3 linked regions of the Homo sapiens genome follow. The protein of the gene in region 1 interacts with the protein of each later gene in a biochemical or structural test. Each region holds a gene or a part of one and is shown in the gene's direction. Other genes may lie near its edges. The genes, in order: OGT, YES1 and NUP62.

Region 1 (3,750 bases):
AAAGATGCAGACTTGAGCATCAATAGGAATAATAACTGAAATATACTAAAACTTATCAAGTATGTTTAAATCTATGAGCTTATAATTATGCTAAAAAATTCATTGGTCATCTTTGGAAGACTTACAAGGAACAATTAATTTGGAAAACTGGTTAAAAAGAGAAGAATAAAGTTTTTGAGGAACCTCTATACTAGTTCCCAAAATGGCTGTGCCAATTTATACTTCCCCCATCAGTTACAAGGCTTCCCTTTCTTTACATCCTCACTAACACTTGTTATTATTCGTCCTTTTGATGATAGCTATACTAACAAGTGTGAGATGCTAACTCATGGTTTTATTTTGCATTTCCTTGATGATTAGTGATGTTGAGCATATTTTTTATATATCTGCTTGCCATTTGTTTTTTTTGTTTTGTTTTGTTTTGTTTTTTTGAGATGAGGTCCTGCTCTGTTGCCCAGGCTGGAGTGCAGTGGCGCCATAATAGCTCACTGCAACCTCGAACTCCTGGGCTCAAGTGATCCTCCCACCTTGGTCTCCCCAAGTGATAGGATTACAGACATGAGCCACTGTGTCTGGCCTGTACCTCTTCTTTTGAGAAATGTCTGTTTAGATCCTTTGCCCGTATTTTAATGGGCGTATTTGCTACTGAGTTGAGCTTCTTAACCCTTTATCAGTTGTATAGTTTGCAAATGCTTTCTCCTAATCCGGGGTTGCCTATTCACTCTGTGTAATTGTTTCCTTTACTGTGCAGAAGCTTTTTAGTTTGATGCAATCTCATTGCATATTTTTGCTTTTGTTATCTGTGCTTTATGCTAAGTGAAATAAACCAGGCACAGAAAGTAGATACTGTATTATGTCACCTATTTGTGGAATCTAAAAAAGTTGATTTCATAGAAACAGAGAGTAGAAGGGTGGTGAGGCTTGGGGGGGTGGAGGAGGGATGGGGAAAAGGGAGATATTGATCAAAGTTTCAGTTAGACTGGAGGAATAAGTTTTAGTGATCTGTAGTACTGCATGGTGACCACAGTTGTTAATAATGTATATTTCAAAATTGCAAAAAGAATAGGTTTTTAATGTCCTCAACCACAAAAAAATAAGTTAGTGAGGTGATGGCTATGTTAATTAGCTTGGTTGACTCTTTCTAAAATGTATACGTGGATCAAACCATCACATTGTATGCCATAAATATACACAATTATATATCAACTTTAAATTTAAAAATTAAAAGAATAAAGCATATGTCTTCCCTCTCCTGTATGAACTAGACCATAGAGTAACCCAATAGTTGATGGGGGAAGCTTTTCTTTATAAAAGCATTCTAGCTAATAAGTGAAGAAGGAATGATAGAATATCACCATTAATAGTGAAAGCATTTATTAGGCCGGGCTTGGTGGCTCACGCCTGTAATCCCAGCACTTCGGGAGGCCATGGCAGGTGGATCACCTGAGGTCAGGAGTTCGAGACCAGCCTGGCCAACATGGCAAAACCCCATCTCTACTAAAAATACAAAAATTAGCCAGGCATGGTAGCAGGAGCCTGTAATCCCAGCTACTCAGGAGGCGGAGGCAGGAGAATCTCTTGAACCTGGGAGGTGGAGGTTGCAGTGAGCTGAGATTGCACCATTGCATTCCAGCCTGGGCGACAGAGCAAGACTCCATCTCAAAAAATAAAAAAAAAGTTAAAGCATTTATCAGTGACAAAAACGAGATACAATCAGGTATTAAGTACCTTGTGGTAAACAATTTCACCAGTGAAGTAGTCTTGCACAAAGAGAAAAGAACACAAACCTAATTAAGCTTCTGGTTCTACCTACCAATTTACAGGAGATATACACGGGACAGGAAACATGTTAAAGGACACCATAGGGATGCAGTCAGCAAAATTCAAACTTTGGGAAGCTGACCTTCTTACTTCAACAAATTGTAATAAAAATGGAGATTTAAATTAAACTTTTAGGCCGGGTGCGGTAGCTCACCCCTGTAATCTCAGCACTTTGGGAGGCTGAGGCGAGTGGATCACTTGAGGTCAGGAGTTCGAGACCAGCCTGGCCAACATGGTGCAACCCCATCTCTACTCAAAATACAAAAGAAAAAAAAAACAGCTGGGTGCGGTGCGGTGGCGTGTGCCTGTAATCCCAGCTACTTAGGAGGCTGAGGCAGGAGAATTGCCTGAACCCGGGAGGAGGAGGAGGTTGCGGTGAGCCAAGATCGTGCCACTGCACTCCAGCCTGGGCGACAGAGTGAGTGACACTCCGTCTCCAAAAATAAATAATGAGTGACACTCCGTCTCCAAAAATAAATAAATAAACACACAAACTTTTAAAGGATTAAAAGAAACTCAGAGAGGCACATTGACAAATTATATCTGTCTTATTTGGATCCTGACTCAGTTAATGAGAAATTGGAGCACTGAATGGATTTTTTTTTTTTTTTTTTTGAGACAGGGTCTCACTTGATCGCCCAGGCTGAAGTGCAGTGGTGTGATCTTGGCTCACTGCAACCTTCACCTCCCAGGCTCAAGGGATTCACTTGCCTCAGCCTCCGGAGTAGGTGGGACTACAGGCGTGCGCCATCATGCCCGGCTAGCTTTTTGTATTTTTAGTGGAGACAGGGCTTTGCCATGTTCCCAGGTCTTGAACTCCTGAGCTCAGGCAGTCTGCCTGCCTCGGCCTCTCAAAGTGCTAGGATTACAGGCATGAGCCACCACGCCCAGCTGATATTTAATATGAAGGAATTGCTGTCTTTTTTTTTTTTTTTTCTGTTAGGTATGATAATGGTATTGTGGTTAGGTTGGGAGGAAAAAGCATTCTTGTGTTGTCCCTGAGATACATATTGAAGTATTTTTGAATGGAATATGTCTGGGCTTTGCTTCAAAATGATCTGCGAAGAGGGGGAGTAAGTTGGAGTATAGATTAAATAAGATCAAACATGATATATGAATTGTTGAAAATGGATAATGGAGACTTGGACGTAATGTTCCTCTGCTTTTGTATATGTTTAAACATTTCTATTATAAAGTTTAAAAGTTCTTGGGGTGGACATCTATCACTATAGACAATCTAAATTAAATGCATCATGCCGTGTTTACTACAGAGTTGTCATCTAAGTGAAGATGAAGTGTTCTTTCTTTATTTTTTTTTGAGACAGAGTCTCGCTCTGTCGCCCAGGCTGGAGTGCAGTGGCACGATCTCAGCTCACTGCAGCTTCCGCCTCCCAGGTTCAAGCAATTCTCCTGCCTCGGCCTCCTGAGTAGCTGGGATTACAGGCGTGAGCCACCATGCCCGGCTAATTTTTTGTATTTTTTAGTAGAGACGGGGTTTCGCCATGTTGGCCAGGGTGGTCTTGAACTCCGGGCCTCAAGTGATCTGCCCGCCTTGGCCTCCCAAAGTGCTGGGATTACAGGCATGAGCCACCGCGCCCAGCAGATGAAGTGTTCTTTATCAGTCTTTAATAAACATACAATTACTCAGTGTCTTAATCAAATACCTTTTCGGTGTGTGTGTTTTTTTTTGTTTTTGTTTTTTGTTTTTGGAGACACAGTCTTGCTCTGTTGCCCAGGCTGGAGTGCAGTGGCGCAATCTTGGCTCACTGTAACCTCTGCCTCTCGGGTTCAAGCCATTCTCATGCCTCAGCCTCTCGAGTAGCTGGGACTACAGTTGCACATCACCATGCCCAGGTAATTTTTGTATTTTTAGTAGAGATGGGGTTTCACCATGTTGGCCAGGCTGGTCTTGAACTCCTGACCTCAAGT
Region 2 (3,750 bases), on another chromosome or scaffold:
TCTAAATAAAGTTCTAGTTCGTTTTCTTTAATAACTTAATTGTTTTAATATTTTCACAGAAGACACAGGTTTTACAAAATTAAAATCCGCTTCGGCTTGTATGTTGTAAATAACCAATAGAAGATAATCAAAATGTTTATTGAACGAATGGATACTGTTCTGTCATCAAATACTCTGTTTTTCTGAAAATTACATAACATGACAATTAAAACTCAAAACTCAATTACGGCATCAAGATCCTAAGTTTTGACTTTTATCTATTTTCGGTTTTCTAGAACAGTAATTCTTTAGATCAGTAATTTCAGCCTTAGTTTTTCTATTCTTAAGAATGCCATGAAATCTCAGCATAAAATAAGTTTTTGTTTAAAGTTTATGAAGATTCACAGCACCTGAAGGATGAATATGTTTTGGTTCAAAAGGCAAATGACAATATGGTGTTGGAGTTTCAGAAATGCAGAGAATCATTGGGTCATGCTATTTTATTTGCTTTATGTAATGGCTTGCTATTTTAGTGGTTGATATTGTGGCTTTGCATTGTTGTAGAGTTGAAGAAGAGATCTCATCTGTGCCAAATTTTTATATCACAGGAACTTTCAGTCATGTTATAAAGGTGATGTTTGTGGTGCACGCTTTGTTGTGTGAATATTTACAGGAAGTTTTAGTAAGATCTTCCATTGTTTAGAACCCTACATGGCTTAGGTCACCTTCAGTTCACATTTAAACAGTTTTATAATATAAGTCCTATAGCGAGGCACAACTGCTTTTCTTTAAAGGAAATAATCTGTTTCTATTAAAGTGTCTTGTCTTATTGGTAGTTCGTGTATGGCTATGGTAGGGTATGTATTATCTCTTTTCTTCCTCTCAGCTGCTCCAGTGCCACAATTAGGCTGAGTATTGCTCAGCTGCAGCTGCTGGGTGATTACTAACCATCCAGCTCCTGTCTAAACTCAGAGGCAGATTTAGCAAAAGGAGCTATAGTAACAGTAGAGGGTGAAAGAGAAGAGCCAGTGCTGCCGCCAATATCGTTTTCACATGTCTGTATGCCAAGGAATCGTTGGCTGCAGCAGCACTACTGTTGTCTTGGAACTAGCAGACTTGATGGCAATATATCCTGGTCTGCGTTGGGTTTACCTTTAAGATCTGAAAGCCCACTCCAGGAAAGACAGAGAATCCTGTAATTTTAGAGTATAGAATAATGTACTGTTGAGGTACTAATGGACTGAGTTACAAGCCTCTGTGCCTCAACTCCTTTTCCCCCCCAAATCTAGGGTAGCAATGCCCTTCAGTTTCTCTTGTTCAAATGTACAGTAAGCTGTGAGACTGCAGGTTCCTTGAAGCATTATACTTCATTTCACTTTAAGCTGTGATTCTTAGAATTGCTTCTTTTATTGTTGTTTAGGGGAGGGGAGTAGAATTGCTGGCATATAGGTTCTTTGGACTCTACTTTCTCCTAGGAAGTGGAAGGCCTTCAAGAGGGATAACTTCTAGAATTAGCTATACATTGCATATCCGTGGTGGCTGCCTGAATTTTGCTAGTAGGAACTCTGCATTCTTTTCCTTTTGTTCTTTCTTTATCCCTGGCGTTTGAGAAGATGGACATCAACAGTTGCAAATACGTTATCAGCTATATATGGCAATCCCCAGACTGGAAGATGCCATAGGCAAATTTTGCTGCTTCTAAAATGCTGCTCAGCTTATAAATATGCCAAGCAAATAGCAGCAGTCGCATCTTTTGTGTTTTTGTGTTTTGCTTTGTTTTTGAGACAGGATCTTGCTCTGTTGCCCAGACTGGAGTGCAGTGGTGCAGTCACAGCTCACCGCAGCCTTGACCTCTGGGGCCCAAGGGATCCTCCCACTTTAGCCTCCTGAGTAGCTCGGACCACAGGTGTGCACCACCATGCCTGGCTAATTTTTTTTTTTTTTTTTTGATGAAGTATCACTCTACTGCCCAGGCTGGTGTGCAATGGCACGATCTTGGCTCACTGCAACCTCTGCCTCCCAGGTTCAAGTGATTCTCCTGCCTCAGCCTCCCGAGTAGCTGGGATTGCAAGCGTGCACCACCACGCCCGGCTAATTTTTGTACTTTTAGTAGAGACAGGGTTTCACCATGTTGGCCAGACTGGAGCATGCCTGGCTAATTTTTGAATTTTTTGGAGAGATGGGGTCTCACCGTGTTGTCCAGGCTGGTCTCAAATTCTTAGGCTCCAGCAGTCCACCTGCCTGGGCCTCCCGAAATGCTGGGATTACAGGCCACCACACCCAGCCACAGCAGCGTCTTGTCCTTACTTTTACCACTACTATCTACTGAAAATCTGGAGATATTCCTTTGACTTATCTTGTCTTTGGAATTTGGTAGTTTGGGGTTTGGCATTTGGGATGGAGATTAGAGAGGATTGAGAAAAGTAGTGCTCAAACTTGTATAACCAGAGGAAGGATGAGGTACAGTTAGACCATGCATTTGAACAGTAAGAAGTACACATCATTATGGCATATACTTAGCAAGAGATTGGTGTTATGACCTCTTTGTGCTCCCACAAAACACTTATGTCAAAACACACCTCTCCTTGCACTGTAATTATTTCTTTCCATGCTTGTCTGTTATTCTTGACCTAGTATTCACTGTGTCAAGGAACTGTTTTATAGCAATCTTTGAGAACAGCCCTTAGCACAATAAATACTAAATAAATTCTGAATTGTATGTAGGGATGTGGTTCTGGGCAGATTTATATGAATTACAGCTATGGACTTTTCGCAAACAAAACAAATCTTTTGAGTACACCTCTACTAAAATGTTATAAAACTAGCTTAATACTTTTTCATAGCTCGAAGTTAATTCTTTAGATTTTTGCTCTCAAGGTTTTGTTCTAGAAGGTGATTTTACAAAATAGCTTAAGCAGTCCTTCAAATATGAATTTAAAGGTCATTTTGATATTTCTAATATGAACTGAAAATTCATTGTAGTTGAAGTTAAACTAGTCTCTAGTAAGGTTTATTTTAAATAAATACGTTGTACTATTTTAGTGAAGAAAGTCCAAGTTATGCTGAAGAAAAATCCTAGATTTTTAAAAAATGCATTTGGTATCTCATCACAGTAGTGACAATCAGTATTACAATTATGACTTGTTCATATATACCTAGGACAAAAAGAAAAAGAAGTCCTGATTTTCTTGCAGTAATGTGTGTGAAGGAATGCATAATTCATAGGTGTACTTTTGCTGGGTTATTGGGGGTGAGGACGGAACAGGAAGTGCTAGGAGGAAAAGTACTGACCCCTGAAACTTCAAGATTGTCTGGTTTTCAGCCTCTATTCCCAGCAAAATGTGGATTCTAGGTTTTCTTCAACTGACTTAAGAGGATTTTCACTTCTCTAATTTTTTAATGTAACTTTTCAGTTTCTTAGCATTAAGTAGAAATTGGGGTGAGGTGAGGAAGTTGGTGGTGGTTGTGTATAAGTTAATACTTCACATTGTTTCCTGGCGAATGTATTGACTTCTAACTTTTGTTCTGATGTGATTAATATTTTACAGATAAGGATACTTTAAAAATAATAGCAGCCAGACATTTGGAAGGAGCAGAGAAGGCAATATGGTGTTATAAGGAAAGGACTGGAAGGTAGAGCACTAACACTATCTAGATTTTAGTTTCATTTCTGACAGTGAAGAGCTGTTTAGCCTTGGTCGATTCAGTAAACTCCCTAGGCGTTAGTTTTGCAATTTGAAACAAAAGGTAGTTGGGCCTCATGGTTTCTAA
Region 3 (3,750 bases), on another chromosome or scaffold:
ATCTCCCCCGCCCCGCCGGTAGAATCTTTTCCTACGAAGATCTTCTAGATTGTACATGGGGACTGGGTTTGGTTTGGTTTGGTTTGGTTTTTTTGAGACAGAGTCTTGCTGTGTCGCCCAGGCTGGAGTGCAGTGGCATGATCTTGGCTCACTTCAACCTCCACTTCCCAGATTCAAGCAATTCTCCTGCCTCAGCCTTCCAAGTAGCTGGGATTACAGGCGCCCACCACCACGCCTGGCTAATTTTTGTATTTTTAGTAGAGACGGGGTTTTGCCATGTTGGCCAGGCTGGTCTTGAACTCCTGACTTCAGGTGATCCACCCACCTCGGCCTCCCAAAATGCTGGGATTTACAGGCATGAGCCACCACACCCAGTCTTAAGCAAGACCTAGCTTTTTTTTTTTTTTTTTTTTTTGAGACAGAGTCTCGCTCTGTTGCCCAGGCTGGAGTGCAGTGGCACCGTCACAGCTCACTGCAACCACCGCCTCCCAGGTTCAAGCCATTCTCCTGCTTCAGGCTCCAGAGTAGCTGGGATTACAGACATGCACCATCATGCCTGGCTAATTTTTATATTTTTAGTAGATACAGGGTTTCACCATGTTGGTCAGGCTGGTCTCGAACTCATGACCTCGTGATCTGCCTGCCTCAGCCTCCCAAAGTGCTGGGATTACAGGTGTGAGCCACCGTACCCAAGGGGGTTATTTTTTAAATAAAATTTTTTATTTTGGAATAATTGTAGATTGACTCAACAGAAAAGTTGCAAAGATAATACGGAGAATTTCTGTATGCCCCTCACTTGGTTTTTTCCATTAACATTTTACATTACTTTGCCACATTTGTCACAACCAAGGCAACATCAGTATGTTACCATTGACCAAATGCCATTCTTGATTCTGACCACACTTGATGCTGATTTTGGTAGTTGTTACTTAATGCCCTTTCTGCTCCTTCCGGATGCCTTCAGGATGCCACGTTATATTTAGGCATCATGGCTCCGCAGCCTCCTCTGGCCTGTGACTGGTTTTAGACTTTCCTTGTCCTTCATGACCTTGACAGTTTGGAAAAATGCTGGTTGGGTATTTTATGGAATGTGCTTCCATTTGGTTTTGTCTCAGACTGGGATTGCGGGATATTGAGAGGATGGCCAGGTAGGATGCTATTTTTTTTTTTTTTTGGCTTTTTTTAGTAGAGATGGGGGGGAGGGTCTTACTATGTTGCCCAGGCTGGTCTTGAATTCCTGATTCCTGGGCTCAAACGATCCTCCTGCCTCACCCTCCCAAAGTGTTAGGATTACAAGCCTGAGCCACTGTGCCCGGCCTGGGTTTTTTGTTTTGTTTTGTTTTTTAATTTTTTTGGTTTTTTGAGACGGAGTTTCACTCTTGTTGCCCAGGCTGGAGTGCAATGGTGCCATCTCGGCTCACCGCAACCTCTGCCTCCTGGGTTCAAGAGATTCTCCTGCCTCAGCCTCCCGAGTAGCTAGGATTACAGGCATGTGTCACCACACATGGCTAATTTTGTATTTTTAGTAGAGACGGGGTTTCTCCATGTTGGTCAGGCTGGTCTCGAACTCCCGAACTCAGGCGATCCACCCGCCTCAGCCTCCCAAAGTGCTGGTATTACAGGCGTGAACCACCGCGCCTGGCCCGGTGTGGGTAATTTTTAATAGCTTGGTCAGTAGGAGAATTGCATTGCTGGCTATGTGCGGTTTATGCTGGCTGCAGAGGTGTCTGGGCAGGGACTCTGCTTCCCCTCCCCACCGTTTTGCCGCCTTTTCTCTCTAGCTATTGGGTCCCACCCACTTCAGCCCAGCCAGACTTAGCAGCTGGACTCAGGGTGAGTGGGTGCCAGTTGGCACCCTTAGCTCTCCAGCCCCTCCCAGCCTGTTCTAGTTCATAGCCGGTCATCAGTGGTTGCCTGCGACCCTTCTCCCCAGATCTTCGAACCCTGAGTCCCCTCGTGTGCACATTCCTGACCCAGGCCTGTGGCCCCTTCAGGACTCATGTCCTGGCCTCCCCCAGCCTCGAGCTCCCCTTCAACTCCTGAGCTGGGGCTTGAAGCAAGGGTGGGGCTACTGGGGACTCTTTTTCGGTGCGGAGGGGCCTGGCTTGGGGAGTGAGGCGGTGGTTGCAGGCAGGTTGCATCAGCCCTGGCTGTTTGACGGGGACGGGGAGTTCGGGGATTCTCTGGGGACCCCAGCACACCTGGCAACCGCTCCCGGTTAGCAGAGCCTTGGATAAGGGAGAACCCCCGCACAGCAAGAGTAGGGGTGGTGTGGAGAGGGAGGGAGATCAGCCACCCGTGCAGGACCCTGAGAATCTGAGGCTCGGTGCCAAGAAGGGGCCTCAGATCACAGAGGCTTGTTAGCAGGAGTCAAGACTGAGGTCCCGAGAGGTAAGGGGGGTTGTGAAAATCACAGTGCCAGTTAGATGGGACCTCAGCCTCCACCATGCTGCACAGCTTCCAGGGCCCCGAGGCCCATGGTGTAGTCTCTGGGAGGTCTCCAAGCCCTGACCCTCACCTCAGGCCTGCTGCTGCTCACAGTTGCCAGACGCTATCGATTCCTGCCTGCACCTGCACCGTGCCATCGCCCTGCTATTGCCGCAACTCCTCACTGCTTTCCCAATCACGGTGGCCTCCTGGCATGATGGAAAAGGCTCCGAGTTTTGCATCAGACAGACCGGGGTTCTGGTCCTGAGCCCAGCACTCAGTTGTAGACTGGAGTGCAGGCAGGGCCCTCATCTGCCGAGCCTCGGCTGCCTTCCGCAGCGTGGGTCAGAGCATGGGCCCTAGAGCCAGCCTGCTGGGTTCACACCCCAACTCCACCACTTCTGTGACCCTCAGCAAGTGGCATCCTCTTTCTATGACTCAGTTTCCCCTCCGTAAAATGGGGATGAGATGGTCCATTGCAGACGGTGGTTTTGAGGATTAAATGTGTAAATGTGCGTGAAATACCTAGAGTGGGGCCTGGCATAGGGAAATGCCCTGTGAGCAGTAGTTCCTGCTCTGGGGCCTGGTGTGGGAGCGCTGTGGAGATGGCATCAGTGAAGCCGGCGGCTGCCAGAGCCCGGGTCTGTGTGTGATTCTCTCTGTTCTCGCCACGCCTGCTTCTGCTTTCAGATCCGCCGTGTGCAGATGTCTGCCTACGTGACTGCTCCCCCGAACGCTTCGAGGGCAAAGTCAGGGCCCTCCTCATTCCCAGAAACGTTCCCCACAACCCCCCGCCCTGTGCTGCTATTTCCGTAGGCATCAATACATTTTCTAATGAGTTGCTCAGCACAGAGGCCAGCGAATGTGATACTGAGGTCCCTGAGAGGAGCCAGGGAGGGTAACTGGGTCACGCAGGCCAGGGGTGCCGGGGTTGAAGGTGGGAGTCCTGGCAAACAAGGGCAGGTAGGCCAAGGCCAGCTCAGTTGGGGAGAGGATGACGCGGGGGCTGGGAGACAGCACAGGCTGCCACGTGGCCCACAGTCCTCCAGAGCCCCTTCCCTCCCTTGTGCCTGCCCTTGTCCCTTCAGTAGAAGCAGTCACAGCTCTTATGCAAAAAAAAAGGGACACAGCAAACTGATAACAACTGACACCAGTGTCCTAGAGCCCAGGATGCCATCACTCACCGCTTAGTGGTCTGGGACAAGATACTGTACCCCCCGACCTGTGGTCACCTCATCAGTAAAATGGGCACAATCATAGAACTACCTTGGGGCAGTGTGGAGGGGCAGGGGGTTGACATGGGAAGAGGCCTGGACCGGTGAA

Evidence for each region.
Region 2: of the proteins of OGT (region 1) and YES1, one has a biochemical effect on the other in vitro, tested with the Homo sapiens proteins (one study listed by BioGRID).
Region 3: of the proteins of OGT (region 1) and NUP62, one has a biochemical effect on the other in vitro, tested with the Homo sapiens proteins (2 studies listed by BioGRID).

Annotation. Positions count from the first base shown.
Region 1 is NC_000023.11:71,549,971-71,553,720, forward strand, and holds part of OGT (UDP-N-acetylglucosamine--peptide N-acetylglucosaminyltransferase 110 kDa subunit), read left to right. Parts: intron 1-3,750. UniProt on the Homo sapiens protein: Catalyzes the transfer of a single N-acetylglucosamine from UDP-GlcNAc to a serine or threonine residue in cytoplasmic and nuclear proteins resulting in their modification with a beta-linked N-acetylglucosamine (O-GlcNAc).
Region 2 is NC_000018.10:805,509-809,258, reverse strand, and holds part of YES1 (tyrosine-protein kinase Yes), read left to right. Parts: intron 1-3,750. UniProt on the Homo sapiens protein: Non-receptor protein tyrosine kinase that is involved in the regulation of cell growth and survival, apoptosis, cell-cell adhesion, cytoskeleton remodeling, and differentiation.
Region 3 is NC_000019.10:49,922,874-49,926,623, reverse strand, and holds part of NUP62 (nuclear pore glycoprotein p62), read left to right. Parts: intron 1-3,750. UniProt on the Homo sapiens protein: Essential component of the nuclear pore complex. The N-terminal is probably involved in nucleocytoplasmic transport.